Linked DNA regions of Homo sapiens. The protein of the gene in region 1 purifies or fractionates together with the protein of each later gene. This does not show direct contact. Each region holds a gene or a part of one and is shown on either strand. Other genes may lie near its edges.

What was found. The genes of interacting proteins can lie anywhere in the genome.
Region 2: the proteins of SPANXN3 (region 1) and BTRC purify together in Homo sapiens (affinity purification with mass spectrometry; 4 studies listed by BioGRID and IntAct, with this or other methods). This does not show direct contact.

What each region holds. Positions count from the first base shown.
Region 1 is NC_000023.11:143,511,284-143,514,557, forward strand, and holds part of SPANXN3 (sperm protein associated with the nucleus on the X chromosome N3), read right to left. Parts: intron 1-3,274.
Region 2 is NC_000010.11:101,535,603-101,539,256, forward strand, and holds part of BTRC (F-box/WD repeat-containing protein 1A), read left to right. Parts: intron 1-940; coding exon 941-1,051; intron 1,052-2,690; coding exon 2,691-2,769; intron 2,770-3,654. UniProt on the Homo sapiens protein: Substrate recognition component of a SCF (SKP1-CUL1-F-box protein) E3 ubiquitin-protein ligase complex which mediates the ubiquitination and subsequent proteasomal degradation of target proteins. Recognizes and binds to phosphorylated target proteins.

The DNA of each region.
Region 1 (3,274 bases):
CTGTAGACAGGCAGAAACCAGGCCATATGATATCATGCCTTCTAGCTGGCATAAATAAAGTCGCCCCTGCTCTTTTCCTCTCCCGCCTTTTCAAAGGTCACAACTAAATATGCCACCTTAAGCCCTAATACCATTAAGGGCAAAATCTACCTCCATTTACACTTTATCTCCCAGTCAGCCCCAGACATTTGAAAAAAAACTTTAAAAAGTGGAGGATGGCCCTCAAACCTCCAAAGAGACTTAATCAAAGTGGCCTTTAAGGTCTATAAGATTAGAGAGGAAGAACTAAAAAACCCAAACCTAAAAAAGGGCCAGGCTAAATATCAAATGCTGATAGCTGCCACTCAACAGGGTTCCCAAGGCATACAGAATTCCTCAACTTGGCAACAGTCAACTCCAGGAGCCTGTTATAAGTGCATCCAACAGGGACACTGAGCAAAAGCCTGGCCTAATCCCGTGACACTCTGGAAGCCTTGCCCCATCTGTGATATCAAGCAACACTGGAAGTCAGACTGTGCTCAGTGAAACTCTTCATCTAGCTTCACCACCTGTACCTGAAGACAGGTGGGGCCTAGAGTCCACCACCCCTACTGCCATCACCACCTCGGAACCCAGGGTAATTCTGTCAGTCTCTAGTAAGTCCATGTCTTTCCTATTGGATACTCAATACGACAACTAGTTACTCGGTTTTACCAGAATATTCTAGACCCTTTTTCTGTTCTTCGATCTCTATTGTGAGAATCAATAAAATCCCCTCTAGGCACAGACTCGTCCTTTATTATGCAACCTATTCAACAGCCCCCTTCACCCACTGTTTCCTGGTTATCCCTCAGTCCCCTACCCCTATCTTGGGGTGGGACATATTAAGTAAATTCCAGGCCTCCATGCAATGCGGCTCCTACAATTCTACCCCTTTTATTTTACTCCGACACCCAAACGCTTCCCTCTCCCCCTACTCATCCTCATTATCCACCCTGTTACCTTCTGTTAATTCTAAAGCTTGGAATGTTTCTAAACCCACAATAGCCACACATCACATCCCAGTTAAAATAACCTTTCAAAACTCCTCCATTTTCTTTTTTCAGTCTCAATATCCCCTTAATCCAGCCGTGCTTAGGGGCCTCAAACCTATTATTTGTAAACTTTAACAAGCTCATATTCTCAAGCCTGTTAACTCTCCCCAGAACACCCCTATTCTGGCTTTCCAAAAGACAGACGGGACTTACCCCTTTGTCCAGGATCTCCAAGTTGTTGACCAGGCAGTGGTACCAATACATCTAGTGGTCCTCAACCAATATGCTCTACTCTCCCATATTCCTAAATCTACTACACACTCCTCTGTATTGGAACTGAAAGATGCCTATTTCACCATTCCCTTAAATCCGGCTTACAGAAGTCTTTTTGCTTTAACTTGGTCAAGTCCTAATACTCACATGTGCACCCAACTAGAGTGGACTGTACTCTTACAGGGGTTCCAGGATAGCCCCCACCTATTCAGACTTGCCCTCATCAAGGACCTAGGTGAACTTTCCCTTGCTGCTAGCACCCTCCTGCAACATGTCAAACTCCTTCTCTGTAGCCCCTTCCTTAACCTGTCCATCCAACACACCACTTAGGTTTTAAACTTCCTCCATAATAGAGGAAATCTCAGGTAGCCCAAACCAAAGTTTGGGCCTAGCCCACAATATTTCAGGTAGCCCAAACCAAAGTTACTTACCTTGGGTTTGTCCTAACCCCTAATTCTCGAGCCATCCCAACCCAATGAAAGGAGCTAATTTGGGACATGCCCTTTCCTCACACAAAAAAGTACCTTCTCTCCTTCTCGGGCCTTGTGGGTTACTTCTGGCTGTCAGTTCCCAATTTTGACTTGCTGGCCAAGCCACTAAACAGGGCCTCACATGGGCCCATCCTAAAACCCCTAAACCCAGCTTGCCCCATCAACTCCCACTTAAAAACTTAAAAATGCCCTTTTAATGGCCCTGGCACAGGGACTGCCCAACCTCACCAAGCCCGTTACTTTGTATGTACATTCTGACCAGGGCCTTGCCCTTGGACTACTCTGCCAAACATACGGCAACGCCACACAAGCCACTGCACTTCTCTCAAAACAACTGGACTCTGTTGTTTTGTGTGACCAAGGCTGGTCACTCTGACTAAAAATCTTGGCTGTGGCCACATCGCTGGCCTTAGAGGCACGGAAACTCCCTCTTTACCAACACATTACTATTGCATCTTCCCATTACCTACAGGACCTCATAAACCATCAATCCCTTCTATCCCTCCTACCATCCTGCTTATAACAGGTACATGCCTTATTCCTAGGTAGCCCTCTAATCCCCTTCCAGAGATATAAAACTCTCAACCCAGCCACCCTCCTCCCTGTAAACACTTCCGATTCTAGGCTCTCTCACTCCTGTCTGGACCTCTTAGACTCCCTCTCCTCCTCCTTCCAACACATTTCACATGCCCCTTTGCAGGGAACACATACACGGTTAGTTAATGGAAGCTCTTTTAGGGAGCCATGTCCAGCAGCTGGCTATTCCATCATTGCTGAAAATAAACTCCTAGAATCCAATGCTCTGCCACCCCATGCTACCTCTCAACAGCCTAAGCTAGTTGCCCTAACCAGGGCCCTCACCCTAGCAAAGGGAAAGAGGGTCAACATTTACACCCATTCCAAATATGCATACCATGTCCTACAGTCTCATGCCTTCATCTGGCAGGAACAGGGTTTCCTAACTACAAAAGGAACTCCCATAAGAAATGGCAAACTTATACATAAGCTGCTGGGGGTGGATAAACTACCACCAAAGGCCACCATTATCCATTGCAAGGGGTGCCGAAAGTCTAAAGATGCCATAACCGAGAGAAACCTTTCAACAAATTTGGCAGCCTGGCAGGCAGCCCTTAAAACCCCATCGTTATTGCTCATTTTTTCCTGTATATACCCAGAAGGAATGAACCCCACTTGCCCGGGCTGGTGCCATTCAGGAAAAAATTGTTTGATCTCAGTGATAAAGTGTCTTGTCCAAGTTTAAAAAACCTTCTGTACTTTCATATGTGCACAACCATTTCCATGCTGCTTACTGCCCCTACTCCAGCTTTTAGAAAATTATATACATTCTTCTGCCATGGCTGCCAATCTGAAATATATTACTAAGGCATGTTCCCTTTGCACTCAAACTTCCCCTCAGGAAGCTATCAAACCACCTCCTTTCCAACACACAAGGTCTGAGGACACTTACCAGGGCAGGACTAGCAAATCAACGTCACT
Region 2 (3,654 bases), on another chromosome or scaffold:
CAGGTCAGAAGTTTGCCCCAGGCAGAGAAGCAGCACAGCAAAGCCTTTTGTTGCCCTTCTTTTTAAATTTCTCCTGTCTACCGTTGAAAAGTGCTAATAAACAGCTAACAGCCTTTTCTTTGCCATTGTTTTTAAGAAATGAAAAGAAAGATTTGTTTCCTTACTAGAAATTATGTAATTTTTGTCTTAGCATTACATAATTGGCCAGAGAGTTACCTGTCTTTGAAATTATGAAGATTTCACAGTTGGAAGTCCTTTTTGGGGTTTTCCCTTCACAAAGATGAATGACATAGATATGATTATAATTTGGAAGATTTATCCATCCTCTCCCTTCAGTGAAGTATTAAAAGGATGAAAAGGCCATTAAAAAAGAGCTACTGTTTGTTATATCTAAGGAAATTATTCCTAGAAATCACTTGAATTGCTCTGAAAACGTACAGTTTTTATAATTAGTACACAAAAGTTCTTGAGAACTGACTTTGCATTTCTATTCTCTGAGAAGAGCTGTCCTGGACAGTGGTGAAAGAAGTGTCTGCCGTGGCAGAGGGGGAGGTGCTTTGTGAGAACAGGACATCACTGATAATCTGTATCTCTTTCAGTTTGGTGACTTCAGGAAACTGCTTTCTTAGCTTGGTCATTTCCTTCTCAGGCAACTGCGTGCATTGAATTCGTTTTTATGCCTGGAAGAACCTGTTTACAGAATTATGTAAAGCCCTGTGCTTTGAAAATACATTTTACATTTGAACTTAAACCTACATATTTCTGTGTGAGTTATATAGCAGAAAGGAAATAAATTACATTGAAAGCAGTACATATCTGTGTGGGTGGTGATTGATTTTATTTTATGAATTTTTAGAAGGCATATGAGGTGTATTGTTATAACATTCCAGGCTTAGAAAAGAATACGTGAAAATTCACCTGACTTAATTTTCTCTTCCAGATTATGGGACATAGAATGTGGTGCATGTTTACGAGTGTTAGAAGGCCATGAGGAATTGGTGCGTTGTATTCGATTTGATAACAAGAGGATAGTCAGTGGGGCCTATGATGGGTGAGTGTGCTAACAGAGTGTAAAAAAGAGAAAATCTACGTCTTAATCCTTCCTTATGTTTATGGTGTTAAACATAACCATTCCTTGTTTCTAAAAGCTTATAGATTTTACACAAAATATCTGATACCATATTTCTTTAATCCGTGTATTTACCTCTCCTTGGTTTAGTGTCCTGAAATATTCTTCCCATTCATTTTATTATACTTGTTTGCACATGGTTGTCATTCATATTTTGGTTATTTGGTTATGTATTTGACTGTTTTGCCCTGTAAAGCAAAGAACAAGAAAAACCCAGTGTTAACAGGCTACCCATGTAAAAGGGTAACCTGTTAACAAAACAGAAACACTAGAGGGCAGTATTTGGGGACTTAGTGTGGTAAGATCTTGAATTTTGATTTCTTGGGTTTTTTATCTCTTTGAGTAATTTTTAAGAGTACAGTTCTCTTGTCATCACTTGTCATCCTAGCATTTCATTTATGAGTTTAGTCATCTTTATTTTCTTCTAATTTCTAGTGGTTATGGAATCCATTAATTTTGTGAATGGACCCCATGTCCACCAATCCTAAACACAGAGTAAATTCAAACAAAAGTAGTCTGGGCACAATGGCTCATGCATTTAATCCCAGCACTTTGGGAGACCGAGACAGGTGGATCATTTGAGGTCAGTAGTTCGAGACCAGCCTGGCCAACATGGCAAAACCCAGTCTCTACTAAAAGTACAAAAATTAGCCAGGTGTGGTTGCGGGCGCCTGTAATCCCAGCTACTTAGGAGGCTGAGGCAGGAGAATTGCTTGAACCAGGGAGGCAGAGGTTGCAGTGAGCCAAGATTGCGCCACCACACTCCAGCCTGGGCAACAGAGCGAGACTCCGTCTCAAAAAAAGAAAAAAAAATAGTTATTCACTTAGGAAGAACTCTTATCATTTCTTTTTGTCAATCTGCCTGATTTTGGCAGCTTTTTAAATATCAGAAACTAACAACATTATTTTAGTTCATGAGTTAACTACACTGATACATTCATTAGCCAATGCAAGCAGCAGGAAGTGTAGACTGCTCACTTCTTCTGCTTTGGGACAGCCATCACTGTTACAACCTTGGGAAATTGTTCAGAGTGTGGTGACATGTTCCAGCTTGGTCAAGACAATATTTTCTTATTGTCCTGGCTTTGATCTGTACCCACCTGTCTTGGAATTTGTCTGCTATGTACCTTGAGGAAACATGGCCTATTAAAAGATTTTTGGAAGAGCTACACTTATCTTATTTAAATCAAAAGATGAGGGCTTGCTTATATAAACTCCATTGCTCTTACATGGACCCCAGTCCCTCAGTACATGTGACCTGGGCCACTCTTAGAAGTGCCCAGGAAGAGGATGCTTCACAGTTGTAGATTTCTAGGTCTGTGTAATATCATTAAAAGGTCTAATGTACAAGATCTCCTCTTGATCCCAAAGTATGGTATAACTTTACTGTTAACTGTCTTCAGTTTGGTTAAAGCTAGCCTGTTTCTCATTTGTAGGTTAATCACGTACATTTGAACTATACTCACCATCCATATTTATTGCCATGAATTTCTGCTATTCTTCCCTGCCTTCTCTTACATTTGCTTTTAACTAACATTTTTGTCCCCTTTTTGATCTTTAGAAAAATTAAAGTGTGGGATCTTGTGGCTGCTTTGGACCCCCGTGCTCCTGCAGGGACACTCTGTCTACGGACCCTTGTGGTAAGAGCCTTGCTGTTTAGAGAGCATTGGAGAGCAGGTGGGGGAAGAAATTAAACGTTGATGTGCTGTGGAATATGGATTTGAATTTAATAGTTACAACCTCACAAAACCTACAACTAAGTGGTAAGGCAACCAGTACATGACAATAAAATATGTTTATATAATTCCTTTCATCCAAAAATGCTTTAGAGACTATATATGGAGAGAAATGTGGCAGCTGTTTAACAGCTGCACAGCAACTCTACACAACAGTTTAGTGCAGGGAGTGAATAAGAATTCTGTATCCACCAGAAACAGCAGGGGGTACTAAGGGAGAGAGAATATAATTATTCAAATTGGAACCTGTCCAAAATCTGAGGACCTGTACACCTGTGCCTTCAAAAAGTGCCCTGGGGGCCGGGTGCGGTGGCTCATGCCTATTATCCCAGCACTTTGGGAGGTCAAGGCAGATGGATCACCTGAGATCAGGAGTTCAAGACCAGCTTGACCAACACGGTGAAACCCCATCTCTGCTAAAAATAAAAAAAAAATTAGCCAAGCATGGTGGCAGGTGCCTGTAATCCTAGCTACTCAGGAGGCTGAGGCAGGAGAATCACTTGAACCTGAGAGGCGGAGGTTGCAGTGAACCAAGATCATGCTTGCACTCCAGCCTGGGCAACAAGAGCGAAACTCTGTCTTAAAAAAAAAAAAAAACTGCCCTGGGAATCTGCATGAATCCCCCTGGTCAACCCCTTAGTTCTGCAGCCTATTCATGAGGTAGTGCCTCCAGCAACTTGAGCCCATCTTTTTTGTTCCCCATATACCCCCTTTTGACATTTGGGGAAAAAAGTGATTCAAAAGGAGGAATGCACTAAATTATTTATCATGTTGTTAGCCAAGGGCCCA